Regions from separate parts of the Homo sapiens genome. Here region 2 is linked to region 1. A link means that fine-mapping ties the variant in region 1 to the expression of a gene that starts in the linked region. Tissue or cell type: whole blood. Region 1 holds a variant in brackets; the other region holds the start of a gene. All regions are shown on one strand. Distances are between the middles of the regions.

Region 1 (5,000 bases):
GCAAAGCCTCCAACTTTATTCTTTCTTTTCAAAATAATTTTGGCTATTATAGGTCCTTTACATTTCTACAGATATTCTGCTTGTTAATTTCTACCCCTCAAAAATGTACTGGGATTTTGATTGTGATTATATCAAATATATAGATCAATCTTGGAAGACTAGATCTCTTTGTAATTTTATAATTTATAATTTTTAATCTTCCAATCTAAAAACAGGTAATATCTTTCCAATTATTTAGGTCTTCTTTAATGTTTTGTAGTTTTCTGTGTAAAGGTCTTGCATGTCTTCTGTGAGATTTATTCCTAGGTATTTGATGATTCTCTTTTTCTTTGCTTTTTATTTTTATTTTATTTTATTTTTTATTTTTTGAGACAGAGTCTTGTTCTTGTTGCCCAGGCTGGAGTGCGATGGCGCAATCTCGGCTCACTGCAATCTCTGCCTCCTGGGTTCAAGCGATTCTCCTGCCTCAGCCCCCCAAGCAGCTGGGATTATAGGCGCCCTTTCTTTGCTTTTTAAATTATATTTTAAAAAGTTTCATCTTCTAATTGTATATAGAAACACAATAGACTGGGCATAGTGGCTCATGCCTGTGAACCCAGCACTTTGGAAGGCTGAGGCAGGAGAATCATTTGAGCCAAGGAGTTCAAGGCCAACCAGGGCAACATGGCGAAACCCTATGTCTACAAAAAAATACAAAAATTAGCCAGGTGTGGTGGCAAACACAGGTAGTCCCAGCTACTTGGGAGTCTGAGGCAGGAGGATCGCTTGAGCCCAGAAGGTCGAGGCTGCTGTGAGCCATGATCACACCATCATACCACTGCACTCCAGCCTGGATGACAGTGCAGGACACTGTCTCAAAAAAAAAAAAAAGTCCAGGCGAGGTGGCTCATGCACTTTGGGAGGCCGAGGCGGGTGGATCACCTGAGCTCAGGAGTTCGAGGACCAGGCTGGTCAACATGGTAAAACCCCGTCTCTGCTAAAAATACAAAAATTAGCCAGGTGTGGTGGGGGGCGCTTGTAATCCCAGCTACTCAGGAGGCTGAGGCAGGAAAATCCCTTGAACCCGGAGGCAGAGGTGGCGGTGAAACAAGATCGCACCATTGCACTCCAGCCTGGGTGACAAGAGTGAAACTCCATCTCAGAAAAAAAAGAAAGAAAGAAAGAAAAAAAAACCATAATAGATTTTTATATATTTACCTTGGTCCCCACAAATTTACTTGTTAATTTTAATAATTTTTTAAAATATCTTGCTGAACTCACTTATTAATTTAATCGTTTGTAGATTCTTTTTTTTTTTTTGAGACAGGGTCTTGCTCTGTCATCCAGGATGGAGTGTGGTAGTGCCATCTTGGCTCATGGCAGCCTTGAACTCCCAGGCTCAAGGGATCCTCCCACTTCAGCCTCCTGAGTAGCTGGGACTACAGGCATCTGCCACCATGCCTGGCTAATTTTTGTATTTTTTTGTAGAGATAGGTTCTCACTATGTTGCCCAGGTTGGTCTCGAACTCCTGGGCTCAAGAGATCTCCTAAATTAGGCCTCCCAAAGTGCAGAGATTACAGGCCTGAGCCACCTTCCTGGCCAGTTCTTTTGGATTTCCTGCATATACAGTCCTATAATCTAAAATGATGACAGTTTTAGTTCTTCCTTTCCAACCTTTATACCTTTATTTCTTTTTACTGCCTTATTATACTTGCCAAGACCTCCAGTACAATGTGGAAGTGATGATATGATGACATGTTCCTAATCTCAGAGGGACTGCATTTAAATTTAACCCCAAAGTGATTTTAGATATTTTTTTTAATCAAGGGTATCTTAATGAAGCTTAATGGAGCTCCCCGCTATCCCTAATTTGATGAGAGTGTTGATTTTTATCAATCTTTTTCCTTTGATTGAGATAATCATATGGATGTTCTTGTTATCTGTTTATTTATTTATTTATTTTTTTGGAGACAGAGTTTCACTCTTGTTGCCCAGGCTGGAGTGCACTGGCGCGATCTTGGCTCACCACAACCTCCGCCTCCCAGGTTCAAGCAATTCTCCTACCTCAGCCTCCTGAGTAGCTGGGATTACAGGCATGCACTACCATGCCCGGCTAATTTTGTATTTTTAGTAGAGACGGGGTTTCTCCATGTTGAGGCTGGTCTCGAACTCCTGACCTCAGGTGATCCGCCCACCTCGGCCTCCCAAAGTGCTGGGATTACAGGCGTGAGCCACCGCGCCCGGCCTTTGTTATCTGTTTATATGCTGAATTTCATTGATTGATTTGCAAATGTTAAACCACCTTGCATTCCTGGAAGAAGGCCTTGTTCATGAAGTATTATCCTTTTATATATTGCTTATTCAGCTTGATAATTTTTTTTTTTTTTTTTGGGACAGGGTCTCACTGTGTCACCCAGGCTAGAGTGCAGTGGTGTGATCATGGTTCACAAAAAAAATTTTTTTAGTTACTTATTTTCCAGCCGGTGTGCGGTGGCTCATGCTATAATCCCAGCACTTTGGGAGGCCGAGGCGAGTGGATCACCTGAGGTCAGGAGTTCAAGACCAGCC[T/G]GGCCAACATGGTGAAACATCGTCTCTACTAAAAATACAAAAAAATGCCTGTAATCCCAGCACTTTGGGAGGCCGAGGCGGGCGGATCACGAGGTCAGGAGATCGAGACCATCCCGGCTAAAACGGTGAAACCCCGTCTCTACTAAAAATACAAAAAATTAGCCGGGCGTAGTGGCGGGCGCCTGTAGTCCCAGCTACTTGGGAGGCTGAGGCGGGAGAATGGCGTGAACCCGGGAGGCGGAGCTTGCAGTGAGCCGAGATCCCGCCACTGCACTCCAGCCTGGGCGACAGAGCGAGACTCCGTCTCAAAAAAAAAAAAAAAAAAAAAATACAAAAAAATTAGCTGGGCGTGGTGGGGCACAGCTGTAGTCCCAGCTACTCGGGAGACTGAGGCAGGAGAATTGCTTAAACCTGGCAGGCGGAAGTCGCAGTGAGCTGAGATTATGCCACTGCACTCCAGCCTGGGCAATGAAGTGAGACTCCCTCTCAAAAATAATAATAATAATAATAATTACTTATTTTCTTTAGTGTCATATACTCAAGGCTTTCTTCTTTTCTAAAATATGCATGTGGTGGTATAAATCTCCCTCTGGAAACTGTGTATCTTATGAGTTTCGATATGTCATATTTTTGTAATCATAAATTTAAAAATATTTTCTAATTTCCATTATAATTTCTTCTTTGGCCTAAGAGTTATCTAGAAGCATGTTGCTTAATTTCCAATATTTTGGAATCTAGTTATGTTTTTGTTTTGATTCCACATTAATTCTGGGTCAGAGTATATAATCTATGATTTCGTCTTTTAAAATTTATTGATACTTGCATTATAGCTCAACATTTCATTTATTTTGGTAAATGTTTCATGTGCATTTGAAATAATGTATTTTCTGCAGTTGTTGGGTATAGAGCTCTACATAAGTCAATTAGATCAAGTTGATTAATCATGTTATTTAAATCTTCTAAATCCTTACTAATTTTTTTGTCTGCTTGTTCTAACAGTTGTTGAGAATTGTGTTAGAATTTCTAACTGGTCTGGGCATGGTGACTCATGCCTATAATTCCAGCACTTTGGAAGGCTGAGGTGGGAGGATCACTTGAGCTCAGGAGTTGGAGACCAGCTTGGCCAACATAAAAAGACCCCATTTCTAAAAAATAAATACAATTACTTACTATTTAATTGTAGGTTTGCCTATTACTCCTTTTAGTTCTGTCATCTTTTATTTTGCATATTTTGATGCTATATTATTAGGTGCCTATAAATTTAGGATTGTTTTACCTTTCTGTGGAATCAAGTCTTTCATCATTATAAAATGTCCCTCTTTATTTCTCCTTCCTTCCTTCCTTCCTTCTTTTCTTCCTTCCTTCCTTCCTTCTTTCTTTCCTTCTTTCTTTCTTTTTTTGACAGAGTTTCACTCCCGTCACCCAGGCTGGAGTGAAATGGCATGATCTTGGCTCACTGCAACCTCCGCCTCCCAGGTTCAAGTGATTCTCCTACCTCAGCCTCCCGAGTAGCTGGGATTACAGGTGCCTGCCAGTACACCTGGCTAATTTTTGTATTTTTAGTAGAGACGGGGTTTCACCATGTTGGCCAGGCTGGTCTCAAACTCCTGACCTCAGGTGATCTACCCACCTTGGCCTCTCAAAGTGCTGGCATTACAGGCGTGAGCCACCGCACCCAGCCATCCTTCTTTATTTCTAATATACTTCTTCTTCTTCGTTTTTTTTTTTTTTTTTTTTGAGAGAGTCTTGCCCTGTTGCCCAGGATGGAGTACAGTGGCGAGATCTTGGCTCACTGGAACCTCCATCTCCCGGGCTCAAGCCATTCTCCTGCCTCAGCCTCCTGAGTAGTGGGGATTACAGATGTGTGGCACCATGCCCAGCTAATTTTTGTATTTTTAGTAGAGATGGGGGTCCGCTCTGTTGGCCAGGCTGGTCTCGAACTCCTGACCTCAAGTGATCTGCCCACCTTGACCTCCCAAAATGCTGGGATTACAGGTGTGAGCCACTGTGCCTGGCCCTTTTTTGGTTTTGTTTTGTTTTAAAGACAAGGTCTTACTCTGTGTCCCAGGTTGGAGTGCAGTGACACAATCACAGCTCACTGTAACCTCAAACAATCCTGAGCTCAAGCAATCCTCCTACCTCTGCCTCCCACATAGCTGGGACCACAGGTGTGCATCACTATGCCCAGCTCCCACCCATTTATGTCAACCCTTCTGTGTCCTTATATTTAAAATATGTCTCTTTTAACAAACTCTAGTTGTTTTTTTTCCAAAATACAATCTGACAATATTTTTTTAAATTGGAGAATTTAGTCCATTCATAATCATTGTAATTACTGATGTAGCAGGCTACCAACTTGTCATCTTGCTTTTTGCTTTCTCTTTGTCCCATCTGTTTTTATTCCTGTATTCTTTCTTTCTTGTCCTCTTTTGGATTATTTAAATAGTATTTT
Region 2 (5,229 bases), 120 kb after region 1:
GGCTGGTGTGCAGTGGTGCAATCGTGACTCGAACGGCAGCCTCAAACTCCTTGGCTTAAGTGATCTTCCCACCTTAGCTTCTTGAGTAGCTGGGACTACAGGCACATGCCACTGTGCCCCACTCATGTTTAAAAAAATTTTTTTCTTTGTAGGAACGGAGTCTTGCTATGTTTCCCAGGCCGGTCTCAAACTCCTGGCTTCAAGCAATCCTCCCCCATCTTGGCCTCCTAAAGCACTGGAATTACAGGTGTGAATCATCATGCCCAGCCCCTCAGTTCTTAATAGAAACAATTATTAATATAAGCTAAGAAGAAATAAACTTTACAATATGTATTAATAGCTATTATATATGAACAAAACCTCACAACTGTACAGATATCCAAGGAGATGTGAATAAATTGAATTATGTCTTTCCTGATAGAAAACTAAAGCAAGCCTTTTTCTAAATTAATCTGCCACTCTAGTGAAAGAGCACCAGGAATACATCTGCAGTTGAACAAATTGGGTATATTACTCCTGCACTCTGGGGAATTTCAATAAGAGGGTGCTAGAAAGGACTTATAGGAGGATTTGTGCCCATGTTCAGTGATTTCAGTCAGGGTTTAGGGAAGCCAGGCTTCTCTCTGGCTTGGATGCTGTCAGAGGTGGGGGTATGTCTATGACGGACTATCTTAATGAGTCTTGCCCAGAAGGAGAGAAGATTAGTTGGAGGCTAATGCTGTAATTGGTAAGGAAACAACAGTCACTCTCTTATGGGAGAAAGAGGGATGTTTCATGCCTTTTGTGGTTTGGACAGTGTTCACCTTTGCCAGCATTCAGATGTGACGATGGAGTGGTTCTGTTTCTGTCTTGCTCCCTCACGGTCACAGAGTGACCTTGTCCGATGCTGATGTTCTCTGAAATTGTTTATATTCAACAGAATACCAAGGCCAGCTCCCAGATGTGCAGGGATGTATAAATTAAACGCAATTTAAATCTAAATTTCCAGTTTTGTGTTTGTTTTATGTGAGAACTTGAAAAAATATATCTAAGTTGGGTGTCTGAACAAATAAACATTAGAGAAGAGCTGAGAAACCAAAGAGAGAAAATTGTGAAATCTAAAAGACTGAAAAGTGTTGATAAATTTGACTACAAAAAATTAGTCTTTGTCCTGGGTGCAGTGGCTCACGCCTGTAATTCCAGCGTGATTTGGGAGGCCAAGGTGGGCAGATCACTTGAGTCCAGGAGTTCAAGACCAGCCTGGGCAACATGGCAAAACTCCACCTCTACCAAAAATACAAAAATTAGCTGCGTGGTGGCGCAGGCCTGTGGTTCCAGCTACACAGGAAGCTGAGGATGGGGGATGGATTAAGCCTGGGAGGTCGAGGCTGCAGTGAGCCAATCAAACCACTGCACTCCAGCCTAGGCGAGTGAGACCTTGTCTAAAAGACCAAACAACCACAAAAATAAGTCCTTGTCCAGCAAAAATCACCTTTACACAGGTTTGCAAGACAGACCACAGATAAAACATTTTCAATGCATTTAAGAAAAGGGTTGATGTCCCTAATAAACTAAAAATGAATAACCTACCTACTAATCAATATAAAAAGAGTACTTTTCAGAATCGTTTTAGATTTTTACAACGACATGTGCCATTAAAAACAATAAAAGAAAAAAACCCGGCTGGGGGCGGTGTCTCACGCCTGTAATCCAAGTACTTCAGAAGGCCGAGGCTGGAGGATCGCCTGAGGTCAGGAGTTCGAGACCAGCCTGGCCAACATGGCGAAACCCAGTCTCTACTAAAAATACAAAAATTAGGTGGGCATGGTGGTGTGCGCCTGTAATCCCAGCTACTCCGGAGGCTGAGGCAGGAGAATCGCTTGAACCCGGGAGGCGGAGGTTGCAGTGAGCTGAGACCGTGCCTGGCACTCCAGCCTGGGCGACAAAACGAGACTCTGTCAAAAAAAAATAATAATAAATAAGAAAAAGAAAGAAAGAGGGAAGGACGGGAAGGAAGGGAAGGGAAGGGGGGAAGGAAGGGAGGCAGGGAGGAGGGGGAGGGGGGAGGGGGAAGGAGGGGGGAGGGGGAAGGAGAGGGGGAGAGGGGAGGGAGGAAAGAGGGGAGGGGGGAAGGAAGGAAGGAAAAAAACAAAACACAACTGGAAAACCCTAGGACTTGAACCCAGGGAAAGCGTTAGGGGGTAAGGGGACTACACTTCCCGTGAAGCTCCGCGGCGGCTTCCCGTGAGGCCCCGCGGAGGCTTCCTGAGAGGTCCTGCGCGCTTTCCGCGCCAGCTTCAGTGTCAGCTCGCGAGCCCTGGCGTCGCGTAGGAGGGAGGATGGAGAGCGGCGACGAAGCGGCCATCGAGAGGCACCGCGTCCACTTGCGCTCCGCCACATTGCGCGACGCCGTACCCGCCACACTGCATCTGCTGCCCTGCGAGGTTGCGGTGGACGGGCCCGCCCCGGTGGGGCGCTTCTTCACGCCCGCCATCCGCCAGGGCCCCGAGGGTGAGCCCTGCGGCCGGACTACGGCTCCCGGCAGCCCCCGCGCCGGCCTGCGCGCTTCTCATCGCCTGGGCTCCTGGGGATCGTGGTCCGTCCGGAGGTGGCGGGAGGGCAGCTCCGGGCTCGACCCAGCGTGGGTCCTGCCTGAGGCCCTTTGCGCCTCCCGCTCCAGGACTCGAAGTGTCGTTTCGGGGCCGCTGTCTACGGGGAGAGGAGGTGGCGGTGCCGCCTGGCCTCGTGGGATACGTGATGGTGACAGAAGAGAAGAAGGTGTCGATGGGGAAGCCAGACCCCTTGCGGGATTCCGGGACTGACGACCAAGAGGAGGAGCCGCTGGAGCGGGACTTCGTGAGCAAAGGGATAGGGTTGAAAGGGGGTGCGGGCGGGAGCTGTAGTCCCGATGCTGAGCCAGGCCCCTTCCCCAGGACCGCTTCATTGGAGCCACTGCCAACTTCAGCCGCTTCACCCTGTGGGGTCTGGAGACCATCCCTGGCCCGGATGCCAAAGTGCGTGGGGCCTTAACTTGGCCCAGCCTTGCGGCAGCGGTGAGTAGACGAGGAGTTCCGTCTTGCCCCCGGGTGGATGGGCTGGGGAGCACAATTGCGCAGACGGAGCCTGGAGGATTCTACTGGGTAGTGTGTGGGAAGCGTAGCTCCCTGACCACTCTTCCTAGCATGTCTAGAAGCGGTTATTCTGAACAGCTGGGTCCTTCCTCGGGTATGGGGGCCAGCTTGCCGCCCTGTCTTACAAGTCCAACAGTAGAGGCGACTCCTGTTGCAGATTCACGCACAGGTGCCCGAGGACTGAGAACCAGAGCTTGAAATTCAAAGCTGCGATCCCTTCACAGCAGTAAACCAGCTCTTTGGAACCGATTCCATCACCCCAATAAAGGAGCTCTTCACAGCACCTGTGAGTCTGGGCGCCTTAGAGCCCCTAAGCCAGCATGGGCCCTTTCCCCCTCCCCACCAAGAACTTTGCATGGCTCTGGCATATAGAAACAATTTATTGCCGGGGGCAATAGGGGTAAGAGAAGCCAGAAATTTTTGCAGCCAGCACCCACCCCACCCCCAACTTCTACTTTACAAAAGAAATTTTTACAATCACCAGCCCTCTGTACAGAGCTCCCCCATCCGGATCCCTTCTCACTGTACACAGCTGCCTGGCTCCCTCTGGTCCCTGCTTCAGAGGAGGCCTGGGCCTGTGGCCAGCTGACCTTGGAGTTGGTCTGAGCCCGGAGCTCGCCTTGGTGCTGGGCACCAGTGGGCCCCTGCCAGGCCTGTCCTCTCCTTTTTGAGCTGTCCTCAGCCCCATCTCCCTTAGAGTGCTTTGTGGGAGCTGCAGTGGGGGCGGGGTGGGCTATCAGCCCCAGTCCTGCTGCCGTCTTGGCACTGCAGTGGGCAGTGTCTGGTCACCACTTCCCCCTCTTGCTCCAGTCCTTGGGAGTGAAGTGCAGACACTTGGAGTCGATCCGCAGGAGCCGCTTGAGCATGGCCCGCTCATGGCCATCCACGATGTCCTCTGACAGTGTGAGGATGTACTGGCCCTGGGCAGAGGAGATGGGTTCAGCAGGTGGTCAGCCCACAGAGGACTGCACTCTGCATCCCACACACCTGTCTCCCCTGCCTGCCTCCCTACCTTGTAGTAGTTGATGAGATTGAGGTACTGCAGAGTGGAGATGACATCCTCCTTCTTGATGCTGGTGATTTCACTAATCTCACTGTGGGAGAGCACAGGTCAGGTTCCCTGAGGACCTTTATCTGTCCCCAGGAGCCCTGAGAGAGAAAGCCCAGGAACAGACAAGCCATGCCATGTACCCCCAGGTAGACAGCGCCAGGCTCACTTGATGGTGATCTGTGGCCTCTCCCCGCTCTCCGACTTCAGCCCCATCAGGATCTCCAGGATGGTCTGGGACCAGTAGCTTCGATAGGATAGGAGGCCAAGGTCTGAGAGGGGCTTCTCAGGGGTCCCTGTTTTCCCTTCCACTTTGGAGAGTTCATAGCCTAAAGCAATGGAGCAGGAGAGGGTGAGTAAGAGGTCACAGATGAACATAAGCAACATTTAAAAACACAGGTTGCCAAGGCAGGCTGCCTAGTTCCTATCATGGCCCTGCCACTTGGCAGTTCTATGCCCTCCACTTCTCTGTGCCTCAGTTCCCTCAGGAAGAACTGAGTATTCACTCTTTCCGTGCGCTGAGCACAGTGGAGGGCATGAGGGCACTGAGAGGAGCAGCTGCAGTCAACCATGAGGGTGATCAGAGGCCAGTGAAGGCTTATGGGCAGGGGATGCAGAGAAAATGGCTCATGGGAAGAAGGGGCCTCCAATTTTCCTTTGCCATCCCGGGCTCTGTGTCTAGCCATGTAAGGAAGTGGAGACAGATTCCTGTCTCTAATCCAGACCTGAGAATGCTTGAATTCTCAAAGTCCTCCTAGCTGGGACCTTGGGAGTGTCACCTGCTGTAAGACTTGAGTGGCCTGACTGGGTGGTTGTGAGGATGCAAGGAGAAAAGGTGCACCAAGGTGCTTCCTAAGTCGGGGAGACCATTCCTGGGAGCCACGTGACTGACCCCCACCATGGCTCTTTCCCTCCAACTCGTGCTGATAGCTGGCCGCTGGGAGGCCGTCCCCAGTGAGATCCTCAGACCCTGCACAGCCCTGAGTGGCTTCACATCTCTTGGTCAGTGTCTTCATTCTCCCCAGTCAGGGACCTGGGATGTTTGTTACTTCTAGAAGCCCTTCCTCACCC

Evidence for each region. PIP is the estimated chance that this variant, and not a neighbour inherited with it, causes the effect.
Region 2: it holds the start of RNASEH2C, and the variant in region 1 is fine-mapped to the expression of RNASEH2C in whole blood (INTERVAL, PIP above 0.99).

What each region holds. Positions count from the first base shown.
Region 1 is chr11:65,837,103-65,842,102 of GRCh38, reverse strand. All of the region lies in intron 1 of SNX32 (sorting nexin 32), which reads right to left. Among named protein-coding and RNA genes, the nearest start is that of SNX32, 5.6 kb to the right of the region's middle. The variant T/G (reference allele first, on the strand shown) is at 2,549.
Region 2 is chr11:65,717,848-65,723,076 of GRCh38, reverse strand. It overlaps RNASEH2C (ribonuclease H2 subunit C), which reads left to right and starts at 2,279. Exons shown (of 4, transcript NM_032193.4): 1 at 2,279-2,490; 2 at 2,660-2,835; 3 at 2,913-3,032; 4 at 3,268-5,229. The coding sequence starts at 2,319. The coding sequence ends at 3,294. It overlaps KAT5 (lysine acetyltransferase 5), which reads right to left. Exons shown (of 13, transcript NM_182710.3): 11 at 4,328-4,487; 12 at 4,123-4,204; 13 at 3,473-4,030. The coding sequence ends at 3,896. RefSeq lists an enhancer at 2,134-2,203 and a silencer at 2,354-2,593.